Linked DNA regions of Homo sapiens. The protein of the gene in region 1 interacts with the protein of each later gene in a pairwise test. Each region holds a gene or a part of one and is shown on either strand. Other genes may lie near its edges.

Region 1 (7,002 bases):
GGAAGTGACAGATGGTGCTGGGGATAAAGCAGAGATGGGGGTAAGTGACTGGCTGGGAAGAACGCCAGTGTGAGGCTGTGTGCTGCACGTTTCTTCCTCTCCCCCTCAGCTTCACTTTCCCCAAGCCCTAAAGGGTTGCTCACCACGGGGTCTGAACCTGTGAGATTCTGGCAGGAGAAAACACCGGAGCTGGCCCTCGGGGAAGAAAGGGCTGAGCCCCAGAGTCAAGGTTCCAGTTAGGAGGAGGGGCACAGCAAGAGTGGACAGGAATCTGGCTGCCCGAGGAAGGCAAGAGGCAACACACCCTCCTCAGAGGGCTGCTCCACACACCCACACACAGGGGATGCCAACCCTTACCCCAATACTGATCTAGGGTGGAGCAGAGCCCAGTCAGGATGCCAAGGCTGTTGGCCTGTGGTGTGTACACCATGCTATGTGAGGACACAGGAACCCAGCACACATCCATCTCAAAGTACAACTCTGTATGCCGTCTAAGCTCCAGGTCAGGACAATTCTCAGGCCTGCAGGGCTAGACTGACCACTGAGCTGGCCAGAGGGACAGTGTAGACCTGTCATGGCTCCATCACATCCTGGGGCTTGCGAGACACCTCAGCATATTTCCAAACATGCCACGGACTGCAATTAACCCTCCATAAACTCTCTGAGGAACCAGTGTGGCTCTGCCCATTTTACAGCAAGATAAAGGCAGAAATGATTTTCCCAAGATGACAAGCCAGGAAGGGTGAATGGAGTCCAGACTTAAATTCAGGCCAAACTCCACCCAAGGTCTCCACCCAAATCCAACCCTATCCAAGCCCTTCCAGGAGGCTGACAGCCCAAAGTGCAGAGGGTGTGGAAGGTGTCCATCCCTCCAGCTGAAGCTGGCATAGCAACCAAGGCCCTGCGCTCAGGCTCTACGCCCTTGCCTGAGTCAGTCCCCTCTCTGTGCCCTGGCCACCCCGCAGCTAATACCAAAACTCCTCACAGGAATGGTCCGAGAGCAAACACAGGACCCCAGGGGAAGGCTTGACCAGCCCACAGCATGGCCTCTCAGCTAACCCTCTGAGGACCATCTCTGGACGAGCAGGGATGGAAGCTCTACAGAGAGTGCCATGAACAGGGCAAATGCATCCTCTGCTCCCTTCTTACATAGGGGGCCAGTCCTCACATCCACGTGGACAATAGGTAGCATATATTATTTATTGTGTCCTTACCATGTGCCAGACACAGGGCTAAGTACCTCCCCTGGATTCTCTTGTTGAATCCTCACAATACCCCTATGAGGGAAGAAATATTTCTATCCCATTATACGCATGAGAGCACCAAGGGGTTAAATAACCTGCCCAAGGTCACATGGCCAACAAGGAGTGTCTAGGATTCCTATCAGGCTGTCTGATTCTGGTTTCTCTACATACCTCTCCCACCTGCAACATCAACTGTTAAACCTCTGGCCACAGACAAGACCCAGACATAACTTTCTGGTCAGCTGGGCACAGAAAATGCACACAGACACACATGCAGAGACACCCAGGCACTCACGGGTCTCTTGGCCTCCAGCTAATCAGCAGGTCTGTTAGGATTCAGGCACTGCCCTCCTCCGGTACATAAATTCCAATTTATAATACGGGGCGAAGTGAATCTCTGAGTAGCCCAGCCTCTGAATCTGTTCCTCATGTATTTAAACTTACTTAACTGACATACGACCCCCTCTCCAATGGGAATAAAACACCCGAGTCTAGAAATTATGAAACCAAGAGCTCCTGCTTTAGTCATGCACATTTCCAAAGTAGAATAAGAAATGTATTTTCAGATTAAATGGAAAATTTACATATATAAATTGGGATGACGGTATTTATAGCATTAATTACATAAGTCCTGGCTCCCTTATTTAGCCCCAGAACCAATTCGTTATCGTTCACATATTCAGAATTCCCCCTTCCCTCCAACAGCCCTGGGCCTCCCTCCTCCTCCTCCTCCTTCTCCCCCTCCTCCCCCTTCCAGCCGACCAGGGCCTTACATGCTGGCAAGAGGACACAGCTTCCTTCACTGTCACAGCCTAGCCTCCCAGACACACCCAGATCCAGCCTTAGACAGCAGGGGATGTCCAGATACAACCCCCCAAAGGCCTCCCTCCCGCGAGTGAATTATGAAAGCCTTTAGTAAGTTGGCTGTCGGCAGGCTCAGGCCCAGTGAGACCCCTGCAGGGACCACCAGGGACATCAACCTTCTGAGGACCTGGACTGGAGCCCAAATAAACGCCCACTGGGCTGAGTCTGGAATCCCTCCAGCTCCTGGCGAATGGCTGCCGCAGACCCGACCACTGAGGCCTGACCTGCCTGGAGTCGCACCCAGGATTCCGGCGTGGGGAGCGGGGCAGAGGGGAGCGGGGGAGGAAGGAAAAGCAGGCCAAGGGTCTTCAGGACTCAAGTCTGCAACTGTCCTGGGCTCGTGTGGGAGACTCTCTCGGATCCTGGGGCCTCCATCCTCCCCGGCTGTACCTATCCCGCAGCACCTGTGCGGCTAGGACTCTTCCCCAAGTGTGCAGAAAGAAACACCCTGGGCGATAGGGTCCGGAGTGTCCCGGACCCTCACCTGCGGCCCCGCGGGCGCCACTCTATCTTCGCACCTGCCCGGAGCCAGGCGGGTCTTTGCTCCTTCCCGCGAAAGGGGTTAGCCTTGCCTGCGCCCCAGGAAGCGACCCCGACCAGCCGCCCGGCAAGGCAGGCCGCCCGACGCTCCGGGACCCCCCGATAGCGCGGCCGAGAGCCCGCGCCGGGGTCCTCGAGCTGGCCCGGTGTCGAGGCCCGGCCGTGAGGCGCTGACAGCCCGCTTCGCGCCCCCCGCCAGCTGCAGGGCGGCCCCTCCTGCGCCCCGCGCCTCCCGCGCGCGCCGTGGCCCAGCGGGGCCCTCACCGAGAAGCGCTCCAGGTCGGTGGCCGCCATGGCGAGCTCCGCACCGGGCGGGTGGGCTGGGACGAGCGCAGGGGCAGCGACAGGGACCAGCCGGCTGCGGGACGCGCTCCGCCCGGGCGGCTGCGGCTGAATGGATCCAATATGGCCACTTCCTGGAAACTCCCCTTGGCGGCGGCGGCGGGAGAAGCCGCGGAGCCGCCCCTGCCCCCGCCCGCGGGACCGGCCTCCCCGCCCGGCCCGGCCACGAGCGCAGCCGGAGCCCCGCCGCTTGGACGGCCGGGGGTCTCCGCGGCGAGGCGGGAGGTGCCAGCTGCGGGGACTGCTGGGACTTGTAGTCCGCGCGTTGGGGGACCGGGACGGCAGTGTCGGGGGGCTCGGGGCTGGTGCCCGGCGGGCCTCTGCGTGTCCCCTGGAGCCTGGGGCCGAGCCTAGGTGAGAGTCTCCTGGGTCCGCGCGCTGGAAAGCCTTTCCCGTAAGGGGGAAGTGGGGCACGGCGTGCGCCCTAGAGATCTCCCCCACCAAGCCGTCTCCACCCGCTGGAGCCTGCAAATGTGCTGGGACCACCAACCAGAGTGTGGACAAGCTGCGGGAGACCCGTCGGATCCGGGAGAGGCCGCGGCAGCCTAGTCTGCGGGTGTCTTGGGCCCCACCTGATGCTCCGGCCGGAGCTAAGGCGGGAACCCCGGCGGGACCCGCGCGTCCGGCCAGGCGGCCTTCCCGGGCAAGGGACCAGCCTTCGGCTCCTTGTGCAACCAACGAGCAGGATGCGCAGTTTAGGCTGGGATTCCTGCAATAGAAAAGCGGAGCTCGACGGTCAAGGCGTCAGATTGCAAGTGTCCATCACCCTGCCTGTCCCAAGGGCTTGGGACAACGTCTTAATGGTTCCACCATTGTGCAAAGAGGATGACCACTCCCAGTGCGTGCACGTTCTCTCCGCTAATGTCACTGCTCAAAACGTTCAGAAAATTAACACTTACGCCAGGGTCGGAGGCCTCAGGAGGTTCTGTATCCTTCTCACTGACAATCTATACAAAAGCAGCTCCCAAATCCTCTGAAACCCCGTTTCTTTCTCTTCCCTCTGCCTTTCTCTCTGCTCTTTCTGGGAATGTGGCAAGGTTTGCCCCCTACCCCCCACTGGCCTCATCCCAGGTTGGTCCACCCTCCACACACACCCCTCACCCCAGTATGCTGAGAAGCAACCTGACCTGTTTCTCCTACTCAGAAACTTGTGCTGACTGGAGGTGCCTAAAGACCACGTTCGACTTAGCACACCTGGCTTAAGAGGAGCCCCCTCTCTGCTGTTTGACCTTGTCACCCTGATTTGGCTTTCCCCTCCTCACTCTCCCAGGCAAACTGTAGCTTGTCCCCAAGGTGGACTGACTTCCCGCTGGACCTTCCTGACAATGTTTTCACTTTGCTCCTCTCTCTATGTTGCTGTTTCCCATGCTGTATTAAAGTTATCTACAAGAAATAGAGCAGAGCAGTGGTTAGGGTAGCTGGATCTATGGCAAACCTTCCTGGTGGAATCCTGCTAGCTTTTTAACCTTAGCTAGGCAAGTTACTTAACTATGCCTCCCTTCCCTGGTCCTAAAAATGAGAACAAGTATAGCACCTATGTTACAGGATTAAATAACATAAGTAAAGGGCTTTAAGTTGTACTTAAAATATAATATTAAATAAAATCTCCCTCTCTAGACTACAAGGGCCTTAATCTCAGAGCCCAGAGAATGTGTGGTCAATACTGAATTGATCATCCTAGACTGTATCTACTGTTTCCTTTTTCTTTCCCTATAACTAACAAGAAATCACGACCAACTGCCATCCGTATGGCAGTTCTGCATTACAACTCTCTGGGACTAGCCCTAAATTATCTTCAAAATGGTCTTTTATCTCTAATCGGAAATATTTCAAAACATGTACTTCTTACAGTCCTGGCCAGTGGCTATGAGAAGGAAAAGCTCAGAGTACAGGTGACTTCCTTCTTTTGGGATATATTCACTCTGCTCTGTAGGAGTAAACAGGAGAATTTCCTCCTATTCCACAATGCCGAAATTTCTCTCATTTTATGCTGCTGCTGGTCAGAACTTATAAAAGAGTGAGAATTATCTATGAGGGCTCAAAAGGTGAATATAACGATCATTTCTCACATGGCAAAGTGTTATTTCTTATGGCAGCATTTCTGAGTGTTTCGTATACACCTAGAGGTTAGTTCATAGATTTTACCACAAAAAGATTGGTCTCACCGTCAAATAACTGGGGAATGCTGAGTTCCATACACAGACAGGGTTCTGTAGAAGTCCTCAGCTTTTGATCAGCTAATATGCATTTTCTGTGCAAAAGAAAGGGGAATATACAGCTCTACCCACACTTTGTTGCCCCTTGTCTCTACCCTGCATACATACCCAGCACCACACTGAACTTGAACATGACAAGACTTCGCTTCAGGAAATGCTGCCCTCCAGGCCTCTTGCTTGTCTTTTACTTTTGTTTATACTTTCTTTTGTCATGTAGAAGTTTAAATTTTTGATGTTGTCAAGTGTACTTGTTATTTTATTTATTATTTTTACTTTGGCTTCTAAAAATAAAGACCCTTCCCTAACTTCACAAAGATATTGTGTTTGTGAGAAAAGAATAAATTTTCTTTAAAAACTTTTTTTTAACTCCTTCACATCTAGGCAATTTGTGTATGTGTATGCCAAACCAGTTGTTTCATCTTTCCCCTCTGATGTACAATGCAAATGGTATCACAGACGACATTTCTGTATGTGTGTGCAGGTTGTGCATCAGTTAGGATTATGTTCAGCTGCTTCAACAAGATAGAAATGTCTTCCTTTCTTACATTGTCCAGGTAGGTAGTCCAGGGCTTATGTGACTCTCTACGCACACTTTCTTCTTGTTGCTTGGCCTTACGTGGTCTTGCTCTCATGGTCCAATATGGTGATATCTGCATTCCAGGCAGCAAGAGGCAATGATAGTAATACAGTGCAAATGAGCCAACTCTCAGAGGATTCCAGAAGCTGCCATGTGGCACTTCTGCTTACATGCTATTGGCCAGAGCTGGAAAATGGGGTCTTTATTCTGGCTATCATGTGCACAGCTAAAAAGTCCATAAAATGTTAGAGGAGAGCAGATGTTGGGAGGCTGCAGCCATCTCTGCCAAGTCTGTTTCTGGACTATCCGTTCCAGTGAGATGCCTGAAAATCTTTTTTTCTAATACTATGAAATTTTTGTTTATTAGAAAATTAAAATATAAAAAATGACAAGCAAGAAAATAATCAGCCATACACCAACAGAATCAGCCACAGATAATTTCTTAGCCTTCCACCCCTTTTAAAGAAAAATTTCATGTTTTTAAGTGATATATGTACATTTTAAATAATTTGAATACAGAGAATATTAAATTATCCCAATCCCACCACTCAGAAATCACCATCATGAACACTACATTTATATCATTCCAGAAAACTTTCTATGTATATTTACTGATAGGAGGAAAGATAATAGAGATACTTTATAGGAATCTGGGCCATAATACAGATGCTATTTAAATTAAAAGTACTTAATTTTACTTGAATTTAAAAGAAGACAAAGAAGTTGAAACTGAAGAAAGAGTTGAACTTCAAAGAATGTTTCTTGACCACAAGAGATATTACTTCCTAAAAGATACCTCTGAGGTTAAACAAAAATTGTAAAAAACACTGAGGTTAGAGTTATTTTCTTAAAATGCACATTTCAGTGACATATGAGTGTGTGTGTGTGTATGTGTGTTCAGTGTGTTCATTGCTTTGAAAAATTCGCTCTCATGATTCTTTCCATCTCTGACTGACCTGCTTCCTAAGTTTAGTTACATATTATTGTTACATTATCCATGTTTATAACACTCATATTCTGTTTTGTAAACATAACTTCATAGTTAGTTGATAAATATTCTGAATTAAAATGAATTCAATGGTCATCGTTAGTCTTCTTACCAAGGCTTTTTTTTCCATTTGCAAGTTCTTTATTTTTGTTCATCTCTTCATGGACTAAATTAATCGTTAAGCTGTTTTTCCAGGAAGTATTTTCGATGTTTAACAGTATCTGTCTGTGC
Region 2 (7,000 bases), on another chromosome or scaffold:
ACTTTGAAAATACATACCTCAAAGGAATAAATTCTGTTGTACTTATATATCATCCTAAATTTCATACTAATTGATCTATTGGGTAAAAATCTATAGTTATGTTCTAATACATATTTTACTGCCTAACTAGTGGCTTCAAATTTGTATATTAAAAATCAGAACTAACAGGGCATTCTCGATTCTAGAGCAGAGATATTAAAATGGTTCTAAAAATCACTCAGATGTTTACTGTCACAGTTGAGAGTTTCTTAAGAATGGACGTATGACTCCTATAAACAAGGGTCAGTTTTAAAGCAATCTTGATAACATCTTATTTTTATATGTCAAAGCACAATTAATCCTGAAAGCTTCTTCAAACAACCACTCAGTTAAAGCTGATGGCAGAAAAAATACAAAATTAATGGAAATTCATTAATTTTTATAAGCTACATTTCACAAAGTACCAACACACTTAGAGACTTGGACCATAAAATAGAAAGTACTATTCCCTCCCAAACATTTCCTCCACTGGCTAAGGACAACTTGACTCATTCATGGGACTCCTTTTCAAAATACTGTCTCTATAAAATTCCCCATTTAAAATGTTTTAAAATATGTGCCTCCCTTCGTGGTAGAGATTACTCAATCAAACACACACCTCTCTCTCCCATGTGTGAGATATATATATATATATATATATATATATATGAGATAAACATGATATGTATGCATCATATATGTATATATACAAAAATATAACATTGCACAGGAATTTCTTTTCATACAAAAAACGAAGAATATTAAAATTAGTTCCTCTCAATCTTAGCCTACAATATTCCCAGATGCTGAGATACCATTCACTGAAAGTAAATCTAAATCTGAAGTGATTTTTATTTTAAAATGTTCACTTGGAATTTTACCTTCATTTCTGACCAATTCCACTGAAACCTGATGGTCTAATGGTTACAAACTAGCTCCAGTAGCAGTGTTTAGGTTTCCACGAGTGAGAACATGCACGTCATGGAATTCCACTGCTCTGCACTCAAGTGTGGAGACTGGAAATACCAAAGAACCCTGGTCCTCTGCTCTTTTCAAGCTGCCTAGGTTAGTGTAGAGAATTAATACATTTGAATACACTAATTTATCTCACACCTATACCCTTAAGATGCTAACTTACACACTGTATCATTGCTCTTAGAAAACTGCAAAGAAGGACAGATATAACAATCGCTGGATTTAAAACTATTTCTTAATAATGATCTACAATTGGACAGATTTACTTTTTTCTTTCCTTTTTAAAAATTAGAATTTTTAAAGTGTTGATTGCTTTTTTGATTATTAAAAAATGGTGCCCAAGGCTGGGCACGGTGGCTCACATTTGTAATCCCAACACTTTGGGAGGCCAAGGCAGGCAGATCACTTGAGTTCAGGAGTTGAAGACCAGCCTGGGCAACACGGTGAAACCTCGTCTCTATAAAAAAATTTAAGGTTTAAAAATTAGCCCTGTGTGGTGGTACACGCCTGCAACTACTTGGGAGGCTGAGGCAGGAGGACTGCTTGAACCCAGGAGGTCAAGGCTGCAGTGAGCCATGTTCGTGCCAATGCACTCCAGCCTGGGCAACAGAATAAGACTCTGTCTCAAACAAAACAAAAGAAAACAAAATAAAACAAAAAAAAGTTCCTCAAACAAACCAAAACAAATGGTCCTCATGGTCATCTATTATATTATTTACTGCATTCTTCTCTACCGTGAAATATTTCAAAACTCAAAAAGAGAAACATTAAGTCATGGGAATTTCCTTTCATACAAGAGAGGAAATCACCCATCAACCTACCATCCAAAGCAAACCATTAACATTTTAATGTATTTCCTTCCAGTCTTTTACTTAATACAGTAAAACCAGGATTATAGTACACTATACAATTTTGCATCCAGATATTTCCACTAACCCCTGTATTACCGGCATCTTCCCATCTCAGTAATATTCTTCCAAACCATTATTTTAAGCACTACATTGAATTCCACCCTACAGTTGCGCCATAATTTATTTGATTATGTTCCATTAAAAAACATTTCCCCTTTTCTCTATTAATGTTGCCAAGAAAATCCTTGTTTAAAAACTTGTCCTTATTTTTAATTGTTTTTGTAGGTTACCAAGCTACATGTGAGATTTCAGTTCAAGAGGTATAAGCATTTAAGGCTTCTGTTACATATATATAACCCAACTGTTTTCCCCTAAGTTTGTATTAATCAAAATATGCTCTCAACAGGTGATGCAGAGCTCCCATCTCACAGCAGCCCAGAGCATAATATCTATCCATTAAGTGGAAAAATTAATTAATTTAGTCTGTATTTCATACACTGGTGAGTTTGAACTTACAGTTATCGACCTCCTTGATTTCTTCTTTTATAAACTATCTGCTCATATCATTTCCTTAGCTACTAAGGCTTTAGCATTTTATTGTTTGTTTAAAAAATACATATATATAAATCAGATTTTCCTTTCCTATTATTTTGACATGATGTATAGGAACAGGTTTAATACAGATGGAACTTAGCATTATTTATCTAAATGATTGTTATTTGCTAGAATATACCTTTTCTAAACAAATCAAACTGTTTATTTGAAAGAAAGCATAATATTAAGTCAAACTAAGCAAAAATTCCACATTTTATAATCATTAAAATTTATTGTGATAAGCGCTGAATTACCTCATTTGGCTTTAATAATCCTATGTGGTAGATACTCTCATTACGACTATTTTACAGATGAAGATGTTGAGGGACACAAAGAAGTCTAGGCAGTTTGCCCAAGGTCACTTAGCGTGTGAGCGAGGTGGGTGGGTTGTGTAAAGAGCCTGAAGCCTGGGGCCCAGGGCCCCTCCATCCAAAGCCTCCCATCAGCCTCTCTAGCCATGACCTCTCTCCAGCTCCACTGAGGATTGTGCTGGAACCTCAAACTCAAACATGTTTAAAGCAAAACTGATACTCTTCCCAATCAAATATCCAATCATGCACTTGACTTGTCTATTTGTCATCATCACCAAACATGCTCATTGTCATTATTCAAATTTGAAATCTTTATCACCTTAGCTTAGCTCGTCACCCACTAGGTCCACCTCCCATCCATCCTGCCATCCATTTACCCTACAAATAGCTTCGCATAGGATTGGGCCTTCACAACCATTTTCCCATCTCTCCTCTCCTTGTTCCCTTGGCCACCACTGTAACTTGCTCCCTTTACTTCTGGACCCCCAGTCACCTCTCTCCTGTCTCCTTGCTTCTAGTTTCTTCCAGTCTCACTGTATTCTGAACACTGCCAAGGTGATGAGTTTCTCAAGTATCTTATAATCACAGAATTTAGAAGTGTACAGGAGCTTAAAAACTGAATGCCAGATTTAATCGAGTGGTAGTTACTGCCTAGAACACCATGTCGAGAATATGACTGAGACTATCTCAGCTCAGTGGAAAAAGAGTACCATTACTGATTTTCGATGTCTGCCAGGAACAGAAGCGAGTGATGGCATGTGCCATGTTTTAACCCCCACTATGATTTCATCTAAGTCTTCCATTTTATAAAATTAGATCTGAGACCGGAGGGTTAAAGGTTTGCCAAAGTCACACATCCAGCCTGTTAAAGGTATTTTACCTTCTGTGTATAGTACATAAAATATATTCCATATACTAGAGTATACAGTCCTTTCATTCAGGAACTAATTCTTATTCAACTTTAAGCCAGTCCACAAAACCATAACAACTTCAAGTCCTGGCAAGATAATGTATCCAATAATTATTCATTAAATAAAAAACAATATTACAAAGTAATCTCAGAGTAGCAGTAAAGGAAGATCATTAATACTATAAATGCTTAATGGTCAAAAGAACTGTGTACAAATAAATGTAATTACATTACTTTCAAGAACCAGAACCTAAACTGATAAGGGTTTCTAGTAAGTGGTCTCTTCAGACTGTATTAATCAATATATAAATGCCATTGGTAATGCAGCCTTTTAAAATACAAAAGTTAGAATAAGCCATTTAATAGCTCTCCTGACATAAAAAGGTTTAGGTAGTTTTTGCAAAGCATACCAAAAGGGATCAGTGGGTCATAGTGCTTAGGCAGTCCCAACAGAAAGGAAACAACTGTTATCAACTAAATACGTACTATGTGCCTGGAACTGTACACTGCTGTATCATAACTAAGAGAAACTAATATTATTTTGATTTTTCCAATGAGGAAACTGTGGTCTTGAGTAACTAACTAGCTCAAGGCCAGTACCTAGTGGTAGCCATAAGGCTAGTATACAACACCATTAGGATTTGGGCCCACAACCTGTTTGACTCCAAAACGAATGCTCTTTCCAAACAAAGAAAAACTTTTCTGAAATAAGAAAATTACCCTCACAAACTTTAAAGGACAAAATACTGATTATGACTCTGCTAAATTACAAATAACCGATCATCAAAAGAAATCACAAATTCGAGTTAAGAAAAAAAACACAAGCTGAGAAGTAATTGTCGCAAGACATGTAATCCACAAAGGATTAGTAGTAATCTACATACAGAACTACAAATTAATAAGATAAATGGGTAAAAGACTGAACAGGTACTTCACAAAACGAAGAACCCAAATGGTTAATAATGTAAACAGACATTCAAACTCAATAATCAGAGAAATTGTAAATAAAAATCACAGTGAGATAATGTTTCACTGGACAAGATTTTCAAGCCTGGTATGTGAAGCACTGGCAAGGCTTTGGAACTGTAACACTTATGGCTAGTGGGAACACGATCAACATAATCGCTTTGTAAAAAACAGTTCTACATTCTCTACTAAGGCTGATGATGCATATGCCCTGTGAGCCAGAAAATTTCATTCCCTAGAGACAGCAAATGGGTGTGTGTGCCTCCACATATGTACCAAGAGCCGTGTACAAAAACCACTCACAGCAACCCTTTCACAATAGCAAAAAAACCTGGAATCAATCCAAATCTCCATCTAGAGTACAATGAATAAATAAATCACGTTAGAATACTATACAGCAGGTGAAACTGAATGAAATACAGCCATGAAATGGATAAACCTTGGGAATAGAATCTTAATCTAAATATGTGAGTCAGAAGAATACATAAAGTATAATTTTGTTGATATAAAGTTCAAAATCATACACAATCAAGATTTTTTAAAAAGGATAAACCATAGAGAAGGGAATGATATGCACAAAATCAAGGATATGGGTTGTTTCAGATGGGATGATGGAGGTGGGCTCTGAATGTATAAGGCTCTTCCTGAACTAGCCGGTGGCTGCCTGAGTGTCCCTTGGTTTATGATTTTTATTTTTTTGAGACAGAGTCTCGCTCTTGTCACCCAGGTTGGAATGCAGTGGCGCGATCTCGGCTCACTGCAACCTCTGCCTCCCCAGTTCAACTGATTCTGTTGCCTCAGCCTCCCGAGTAGCTGGGAATTACAGATGCCTGCCACCATGCCCAGATAATTTTTGTATTTTTAGTAGAGATGGGGTTTCACCATGTTGGCCAGGCTGGTCTTGAACTCCTGACCTCAAGTGATCCGCCCCCACTCGGCATCCCAAAGTGCTGGGATTACAGGCGTGAGCCACTGCACCCAGCTGGTTTACGATTCTTTAACATATATTTTAGGAACATTATTTTGTACCTACCAATTAGTTGATTCAAAAAAGAACTCTAAGAAAAGACTGGACGAGAGGGCAGGACATTGACTATATCAGATGACAGACATCAAGATGCCAGAGCAGAGGGAGCAGAGAGGACCCTTTGCTCAGGGGTTAGCTTCCGAGGCTCCAGCTCTGATGTCTCAAAACCAATGCCTTTTTCTTCCAGAGGGGAAAAAGACTGTTTTTCAACTTTAGAGGTGTTTTACAAAACAACCTAAAACACTGATTAATCTAAATAAACCATGGTATATAGGACTCTTCCACCAAGAATTAAAGAACAGCTTTATAAAATAATTTTGTATTAAACAAATAATTTACAGTGAGAGCCTCACTTTTGTCACCACCATCAAGGAAAAAAATGTGCTGATACTTCAGCAAAAGAAAGGAAAATTCAAGAAGGAAACTTTTGATATTGAGGTCCCTTTGCTGAAGGAACAGAATAGAGTTTCTTCATTTAATGTGCATACAACTCACTTAAAGGTCTTGTTAAAATGTTGATTCCGATTGGCTGAGTTCAGAGTGGGGCCTAAGAATCTGCATTTGCAACAAGCTTCCAGGCGATTCTAATGTTGAAGGTCCGTGAACCTCACTATGATAGCAAAGGACATTATGAAAATGCCTTCTCCAGAGATGTTTAAAAATAGAAACACAGGTATATCTAATTGGTGTAATTTCCTTTAACCACTGAGTAGAAAAAAATAGATGATGTTATTCCCACACAATAAAAATTTAAATATAATTACAAGTGCTACCGGAAAAATCAGAGTACTAAACTAGGTCTTTTGCAAAGAAAAGATGCCCTGAGAAAAAGCAAAGACTGAAAATTTACAAGAAAAACCCATGAGATGCTTTACTCACTTCCACAGACCTACAAAGTTCACTCTTCTAACAGGGGTAGTTAGCCCCTTCCTTCTGGAAGAATGGTTTGCATTTCCAATAATGTAGTGAAAGAAACTACGGCTGCCATTAAATAAAGCCCAATTATAATGAAGATACTAGTTACGATGCAACATAATTAAAGGAGCATCATGTCATTGCACGTAAAAAAAATTAGGCTTTAAAATGTTCTATAAGAATATGCTATTAAAAAGAAAAGCTTAAAATTATTTCGACAAAATCCACACTGAATGATTTCCACTAATCATGTCTATGTTAGCAGTAGTAAAATCCTTCCACGTCAAAATAGTACTTCCACATGTAAAGTCATACATTCAAACATCAAGACAAAGCAACCACTCTACAAACCCTTCCAGGAAACTCTGCCAATGCCAAGCCTCTGCTCAGGATGTGTCACAAGTAGAGGGAGGTCTTCTCATTTGCTCTGCAA

The links.
Region 2: the proteins of SEPTIN8 (region 1) and SPTBN1 interact in a two-hybrid assay, tested with the Homo sapiens proteins (one study listed by BioGRID).

The regions. Positions count from the first base shown.
Region 1 is NC_000005.10:132,774,196-132,781,197, forward strand, and holds the start of SEPTIN8 (septin-8), read right to left. Parts: upstream 3,045-7,002; 5' UTR 2,943-3,044; coding exon 2,913-2,942; intron 1-2,912. UniProt on the Homo sapiens protein: Filament-forming cytoskeletal GTPase. May play a role in platelet secretion. Seems to participate in the process of SNARE complex formation in synaptic vesicles.
Region 2 is NC_000002.12:54,459,327-54,466,326, reverse strand, and holds part of SPTBN1 (spectrin beta chain, non-erythrocytic 1), read right to left. Parts: intron 6,990-7,000; exon of another isoform or gene 6,919-6,989; intron 1-6,918. UniProt on the Homo sapiens protein: Fodrin, which seems to be involved in secretion, interacts with calmodulin in a calcium-dependent manner and is thus candidate for the calcium-dependent movement of the cytoskeleton at the membrane.